Regions from separate parts of the Homo sapiens genome. Here region 2 is linked to region 1. The links come from fine-mapping of genetic effects on gene expression. A gene starts in region 1. The other region holds a variant in brackets. All regions are shown on one strand. Distances are from middle to middle.

The links. PIP is the estimated chance that this variant, and not a neighbour inherited with it, causes the effect.
Region 2: its variant is the best candidate, but not a certain one, in a credible set for the expression of SEL1L2 in left ventricle (GTEx, PIP 0.59).

What each region holds. Positions count from the first base shown.
Region 1 is chr20:13,988,710-13,993,240 of GRCh38, reverse strand. SEL1L2 (SEL1L2 adaptor subunit of SYVN1 ubiquitin ligase) reads left to right here and starts at 2,627. Exons shown (of 20, transcript NM_025229.2): 1 at 2,627-2,764. The coding sequence starts at 2,707. It also overlaps the pseudogene TRE-CTC10-1.
Region 2 is chr20:13,951,174-13,955,173 of GRCh38, reverse strand. All of the region lies in intron 2 of SEL1L2 (SEL1L2 adaptor subunit of SYVN1 ubiquitin ligase), which reads left to right. Among named protein-coding and RNA genes, the nearest start is that of SEL1L2, 37 kb to the left of the region's middle. The variant T/G (reference allele first, on the strand shown) is at 1,771.

The DNA of each region.
Region 1 (4,531 bases):
CGGTCTGTATAAGTCTGGAATCACTACTTTCCAACAGCATTGCAGTAAACTTAGTCTGAATTTAGCTGGACTATTGCAAAGACTTCCTAAGTGGCCTTCATGCCCACTGTTGCCCCTCTTCTGTCCATTGTCTAGACTGCATCTAGTGATACCTTGTCAGAAGTGATCACGTCTTCTCACTTCTGTAAGTCATTCAATGACTTTCTGGTGGTCTTTACTATGGACTGACTTACGTGCACCCAAAATTCATATGTTGAAGCCCTAATCTCCAATGTGACTAAATGTGGAGATTAGGTCTTTACGAAGTAATTAAGTTTAAATGAGGTCATAAGGGTGAGTGAGGTTAATAGGACTGAGGCCTTATAAGAAGAGGGAGATCTCTTTCATCCTCTCCTCCCACCCCCTTTCCCTGCTATATGAGGACACAGCAAGAAGGTAGCCATCTTGCAAGCAGGAAGAAGACCCTCACCAGAACCTGGTCTCAGATTTCTAGCCATCAGAACTGAGAAAATTAATTTCTGCTGTGTAAAGTCACCCAGTCTATATTATTTTGTTGCATACAGGCTAATACAGTCTTTTTATAACAATTAAATTATTAAGAATGGAGTGACTATCACCTACTAACCCAGCCTTATTTTATACTATGCTCCATACCACCCCCATTCCCCAGTCTCTGATTCCAGCCCACAGAGCATCATTTCATGTTCTGGAACACCATATAGCCTTTTTCTTTTTTGAGACGGAGTTTCACCCTTGTTGCCCAGGCTGGAATGCAATGGCGCGATCTTGGCTCACTGCAACCTCTGCCTCCCAGGTTCAAGCAATTCTCCTGCCTCAGCCTCCCGAGTAGCTGAGATGACAGGCATCTACCACCATGCCCGGCTAATTTTTGTATTTTTAGTAGAGACGGGATTTCACCATGTTGGCCAGGCTGGTCTTGAACTCCTGACCTCAGATGACCCACCTGCCTCAGCCTCCCAAAGTACTGGGATTACAGGCATGAACCACGGCACCCAGCCCACATAGCCTCTTAACATGTTCATTGCAACACCTGGGACATGATTTGTTTAGCTGACTCACTCTCGTTCTTCATATTTCAGCTTGAACATCACTCCCTAGCAAAGCCTTCCCTGACTCTGACCCTACCTGACCTTTGTTTGCCGCTTCCCCTTATATGCCTTCATTGCTCATTGATTTTCCTATAAAGAAGTTTGGGTTTGTTGTTGTTGTTTTGAGATGGAGTCTCACTCTGTCGCTCAGGCTGCATTGCAGTGGCACAATCTCTGCTCACTGCAACCTCCACCCCTCAGGCCCCTGGCCCCAGGATTCAAGCACTTCTCATGCCTCAGCCTCCTGAGTACCTGAAACTACAGGCGCATACCACCACGTCCAGCTAATTTTTGTATTTTTAGTAGACACGGGGTTTCGCCATGGTGGTCAGCCTGGTCTCGAACTCCTGGCCTCAAGTAATCCAACTGCCTTAGGCTCCCAAAGTGCTGGGATTACAAGTGTGAGCTGCCACGCCCAGCCAACATTAAGGATCTTGAGAGAGAGAGAGATTGTTCTGGATCATGTTGGTGGGCCCTAAATGTAATCACAAGTATCTTTATAAGAGGGGCACAAAGGGAGATTAAACTACAGAAGGCAAGTGATGACTGAGCAGAGACTGAAATGATGTGGTCACAAATCAAGGAATGCTGGCAGCCACTTAGAAGCTGAAAAATTCCAGGCCAAGAATGGATTCTTCCCTGGAGCCTCCAGGAGGAGCTAGCCTTGTCTTTGATTTTAGCCCTGTAAGAATGGTTTTGGAATTCTGGTCTCTAGAACTATGAGAGAATAAATTCCTGTTGTTTTAACCCATTACGTTTGTGGTAATTTGTTATCACAGCAATGGGAAACTAATAAAAGGAATAAAACTGTAAATTCAAAACAATAAAATGTCTATTTCTAAAGTAATGACCTGGACAGACTGTAAAAGTTGGATATTTTTTGTAGGCATAATTTCTCAACTAGCTCTGTGCCTTGGATATTTTTAATATTTATATGTTTTCCCTAAATATTCATTTTGATTTCTCGTAGCTTTGAAGGTACCACTTGTGAGATGTCTGTATTATCTGAGGTATGTAAAGACATTGTTAAACAGTCTTTGTTTGCCTTTGTTCCAGTAAATCCTCAGCAGTTTCTAACTGGAAAAGAGGATAAAGATTTTCATCCAGATTGGGAACAAAGCAGACTTGGCCCATTGTTTCTTTTCCGCCATAGCCTAGAGATACCAGCTTACAGGATGATGTCAGATCAGTTCATGTACCTTAATTGTGTTTTTACATAAGTGTAGTTTGTACCTCTAGAGGCAACATAAAAATAAGAACTTCCAGCACCCCTGAACACAGTTGAACGTGTGGACACGTACGAGTCGGACTTCTGGTCCCTTCCTTTCATGTTAGAGAGCCACCCCTAATTTCTAGCCTACCCCTTATCTTCAGCCAGAGGAATAGCAGTGGATCCTTTCCACAGCCTACATTCTCCAGCAGCTGCCTTCATTCCGGCTTGAAAGGAACACTCTGGCAGCCCATTGGCCCAAGAGTAAGGAAATGGTTGCTTAGCAACTGACTCCTGCCCCCACCACAGTCCCTGAGAAGAGGAGCTCTTGGGCCAATCACCTAGTTTCTGCCTGTGTTACAGTGAAGAGAAGCTGCTTAAGAGAAGATGAAGCCCTTGTCTCTGTTAATAGAGATATTGATAATTCTTGGGGTCACAATTAAAAGTAAGTTTTTTTGTCCTTAGAGTTCTCTATGAGGGTCTCTTCTCTTTGCTCAAACAGCGCCAAGGGCAGAAGCCAATTAAAAGACTAGAAGTAACTTTACTATATCCCTAACTAATGCCATTTTTGTACAGGTACTTTAAAATGTCCAATAAGAATAATAGATGATAATGATAGTCTCACTTGGGATAATACTTGGGAAGGGTGTGTACTTGGGAAGGGTGTGGGGGATGGGGAAAAAACAAATCTATGAGGAAACCACTACAGTAATTGTTATAAAGTAGGGATATTTAGGGCAAGTTGTTAAGTGTTATTAAATTTAGAATATCATAAAGGTCTAGTTCCAAGACTTTAAAGGAAAAATATAAGACTCAAAGAGTGTGAAAGATGTATAAACATGCTTTTTTAAAATATTTACACAATAACAATTTCACTTCCAAAGTTTCAATGTTTCCTAAATAGTTACTATCTGAAAATGGAAGTTATTTTCCATCTTGTTTCTTTGGCCATTTTTTTAGTTACTTTTTACCCAATCCTCATATAATGTGCTCATGATAAATTCAATTTAAGAAATATGTATTTGGTCCCTGCTTGTCTAGTGGTTAGAATTCAGCACTCTCACTGCCACAGCCCAGGTTCAATTCCCTGTCAGAGAAAAGGAAAAAAAAAGAAATATTTGGATTTTACCCAGAAATGTAAGATTGGTTTACCACCCATAAATCAATGTAACAATCACATCAACAGAATAAAAGACAAAGATCACATGATCATTCTAATCTAGTAAAAGCATTTGACAAAATTCAACAGGCTTTGTGATAAAAATGTGTGACAAACTAAGAATGGAAGGAAACTTTATCAACCTGATAGAAGATATTGAAAACCCAAAGCTACTATATTTAATGGTGAAAGACTGACTGCTTCATCCCTAACATCAGGAATAAGACAAGGATGTCCACTTTTGCCATTTCTGTTCAACATTGTACTGGAAGTTCTAGCTATGGCAATTACACAAGAAACAAAAGTAGAAGATATCAAGCTTGGAAAGAAAGAAGTAAAATGATCTGTATTCACAGAAGACATGATCTTGTATACAGAAAATCGTATGGAATCAACTACGAAACTATTAGAACTAATAAATGAGCTCCATAACAAATGCAGGATAAATACAAAAAAAAAGTTCTATTTCTATACAGTAGCAGTGAGCAAACCAAAAATGAAATTATGAAAGAAACTTTATAATAGTATCAAAAATGAACTACTTAAGAATAAATTTTACAAAAAAAGTGTGAAACTCATATTCTGATGACCACAAAAATTGTTTAAAGAAGTTAAAGAAGACTTCACTACATGAAAAGACTTCCCATGTTCATGAATTGGAGAACTTAATATTGGTAAGATGGCAATACTCTCCAAATTGATCTACATATTCAACACAATCTTTATTTATTTGTTTATTTATTTATTTTGAGATGGAGTTTCGCTCTTGTTGCCCAGGCTGGAGTGCAATGACGTGATCTCGGCTCACTGCAACCTCCGCTGCCTGGGTTCAAGCCGTTCTCCTGCCTCAGCCTCCCAAGTAACTGAATTACAGTCGTCTGCCACCACGCCTGGCTAATTTTTTGTATTTTTAGTAGAGACGGGGTTTTATCATGTTGGCCAGGCTGGTCTTTAACTCCTGACCTCAGGTGATTCACCCGCCTAAGCCTGCCAAAGTGCTGGGATTACAGGAATGAATCACACCGCATCTGGGCTTCAACACAATCTTTATCA
Region 2 (4,000 bases), 38 kb after region 1:
CAAACTCCATGAGAGCAAGGGTTTTGTTTGTGGTGTTCATTGCTGTTATCCCCAGCCAATAGAACAGTGCCTGGTACATAGCAGACACTCAATAAATGTTTATTGAATTAATGAGTAAATCTTAAATCTAAATGGAGGAAGTAAACTGAGAAATATTAATACAAATTAAAAACCCCTCTGTACATTGCAACCTTTTCTAAACCCCTCTGAATATAGCTCCTCTCTTATCACTATAACTACCACATCCCATAATTAGCAGTGGGATTGTTATTAGCAGAAATAGATGTGAGCTTCACCTAAATCTCAGTTTGTCTTCAGGCAAGTGGAGAATGAAGGAACATCCATTTCTTCAGGTCATCTTGCTTTCTCTTGTGGGCTCTTGGCATCTTGCAAGTCAGTGCCTGCTGAATAACACCTAAAATGGCCTTTGGAATCCTCTTACTGCTTGAGAACAAGGATGCTGCCCAGACCCATAAGCATCTACCCAATGCCCAGCATTAGAAGATGAGACCTCCAGAGTAAAGATGGGAATAGGCCCCTTCCAACCTTGTAAAGCCTGGGACAAAAGAAAACTAAGAACTATTCTAAGATATTTCAGAATATTAGAAAGTAAAACAAAACAAAACACAATACAAAACAAAACACTACCTTTGTGTCAAAGATTGGGGTAAATGTTCCAGGGTAGCCTGTTTGTAGATTGTATATCTCACTCAATTCCATTGGCCCAAGCACAGATGGCAGAAGTGAAAAGCCCAAAGTCTGCAAACACCTCTACTGCAAAGTGCCCATATATGCATGCTATCCTACAACCAGAATAGAGTATCCTCAGCTCACTGAACTTACCATAGTGTTACATGACTCCTTGGCAATGAGCAGGATACTATTTGGCTGAAAGCACCCTCTCTCCATCTCTACCCCCAATGTAGGCTTGGCAAATTCTGGTTATCTTCCATAATAATTACCATTTACATTATAATTTTAAAAACACACTCACCTAAGTGGAGCTGCTCTTTCCATAGTTTTTCTCTCTTTCTGGCTTTACGACTCTACAACTTCCAAAAAAAAAAGTCATCTACTCCTCCATTCCCCGACAAAAACTTTTTGAAAACACACATACACACATGAAAAAAATGTTTAAAGATAATTTGTCTTGTGTTAAGGATCTAATTTTTTCAGGAGTTCTGTGTGCTATTTCCTTCCACATTAAAGAATGATCCTGATTACAGAGGTAATAAACCCCCAGGTATGTAATGTACCATCGGGAAGTAACTGAGGCCCCCTAAGGGAGCAACTCAAGTATATGGCTGAGGGACCATTTTTGTTGTAGGACTTTCTCCTTAGTTCAGCTAAAAACAGGGTCCTTGTCACACGACCATGAAAAATTAGGCTTGCAGACACTTTGAAGGGCGAGAAGGGCAGGGTTTATTGGGTGAAAAGGAAAAAAGGTGGGGAAACAGGGACTTTCAGCAAAGCGAGAGAGTGTACTTCCTGCCAGTGGGCTCACAAATTAAATCCAGGTTACCAACCCCGGAATAGGAGAATCCAGACTCTTCCTCCCTGCAAATGGCAGGAACTTCCCAAGGATTCACCTCATTCACCCAGTATGCAGCCCAGTTGGAGTTTCTCCAGGGACCCTTTTACACCTGGCTGTCTCATTCCCCCCTCTGCAGAAGTACATCTAACTGCTGTTAAAATAAGGATAAGGATAAGGACGAAGACCGATCTTAACTGCTTCCTGCTGACAGGGGGCGCTGTTCTGGGGGAATGGCA[T/G]TGGAGCTCCCTCAGAGGTCTAGCTAGCTAAGGGTACCCGGCAGAAAGGGCCATCCTCCAAAGCTCCAGTTGCATGACCATTTGGAGTTTGATAGCCTGAAGGTGAGAAGAGACAAACCAGGTTATTAGAAAACACGTATCAAAACGAGAAAAAAGGGATGGGTAAGGACACATCAAAAATCCCAAGGCCTTTTACCAGTTTGCACAGGGAGAGGGAGGCCAAAAGCCCGACTGTAAAAAAAACTTTTACCCTTTTGCCAGCATATCAAGCTTCTGGGTTCCCTTCCCCTGAGCCCAATCCTAAGCCAACCAGTCTAAGGTTTGGGAAATTAACTTTTCCCAGTTTGGAGGATGCATCTGACAGGAGTGTCCTGAGTACAGAGACAAAATTACCTATCAGTGAAGAGAGGAAAGAGGAGGAAAAAAGAAGGCTTTCACTGCAAGCCTCCCAGGTTTAAGCGATTCTCCCGCCTCAGCTTCCAGAGTAGTTGGGACTACAGGCACACGCCACCACACCCAGCTAATTTTTATATGTTTAATAGAGATGGGGTCTCACTATGTTGGCCAGGATGGTCTTGATCTTTTGACCTCGTGATCTGCCCGCCTTGGCCTCCCAAAGTGCTGGGATTACAGGCGTCCAGGCACCGCGCCCAGCCAAGGAGGCTTTTTTAAAAAAGGAGTCCCAGGGGTTCAGGATGCATTCAAAAGGGGTATAGATTGAAGATGAATGGCTACCCATCTAGAAAGACGGGAGCAGGCATCCCTGGTTCCCTTCTCTTCCTAGCAATACCTGGGGTATGTGAAGGAGAGAAGGAAGAGTGTCCTCTTTCCCTCTTCTGTCCTTGAATCATCAAGTCCCAGTGAACTTAGCAGGTGCCATCCATAGGTGCCAAAGTAGCTTGCACCCATGAAGCAGGGAGGGCCTAGATAATAGGAATTAGCTGCTCTCACCTATGTCTCTATCCCACCTACTATCAGTAGCCTTGGAGTTCCCTAGACCTCATTTATGCCATGGATACTAGCATGACCCTTATCCATGAAATGGGAGGCTTGGCTTTATTGGCAGGAATTAGCCCTGCTTACCTGCACTGTCTTTTAACCTCTGTTGTTGTCTGCCTCTGGATTCCTTAGATCCAGTTTTCTTTCCTAGGGCTTTGACCTGAAGCTTGGAATTGAGTTTGGGAAAAAATGTGTCTTGGTAGGGGTACATGGACTCCTTATCAGAAGCCAAATGCTGAGGTGAAGGTGTGGAATTGAATCCTCCTCCAACAAGGGAGAGAAAAGCATGTCTTGTGACATGCCCAAATAACTGGTGGCTATAGTTATGCTTGCTAAGATTTGGGTGCATGGTGCTTGGCTTTGGTTAGCTCCCTTGGTCTTCCTTTCCCAGAAAGGAAACCTCTGCGTGATGAGTATCCTGTTTATTTCCATCACCTGGCAGGATTTGCAGGATAATTGCTCAGAACTAGAATATTGATCCAGATTTTTACATTACCCATCCCTTTTGTTCTTTCTGAGCTGCAGCTGGAGATTGCTTGGTTGGTTGATTGATTGGTTGGTTCACAGGAACAAGCAGGGGTAGTCTAAAAATATAAACAAAAAAAACAACTAATGAGTTTAGAATTTAATGACAAATGTATGATGAGTTTTGAAATATAATTTCTCTCTCCAGTCCTCATTTTTGTTAAAAAACAATCATGATAGGACTGAGTTGTTTGCAAAACAGATTATTTGCATAAAGTACAGCAAGAATCACTATTTCTACATAGGCTAGATTTTAGTCTTTTTTTTTTTTTTTTTTTTTTGAGACAGAGTCTTGCTCTGTGACCCAGGCTGGAGTGCAGTGGCATGATCTCGGCTCACTGCAACCTCCACCTCCCGGATTCAAGAGATTCTCCTGCCTCAGCCTCCCCAGGCTGGGACTGTAGGTGCGTGACACCATGCCCAGCTAATTTTTTGTATTTTTAGTAGAGACGGGGTTTCACTGTGTTTCGATCTCCTGACCTCGTGATCCATCTGCCTTGGCCTCCCAAAGTGCTGGGATTACAGGAGTGAGCAAATACACTGTATTTTCTTTCTAATCAGTATTTTCTTTCTTTCTTTCTTTTTTTTTTTTTTTTTTTTTTTGAGACGGAGTCTCGCTCTGTCGCCCAGGCTGGAGTGCAGTGGCGCTATCTCGGCTCACTGCAAGCTCCGCCTCCCAGATTCACGCCATTCTCCTGCCTCAGCC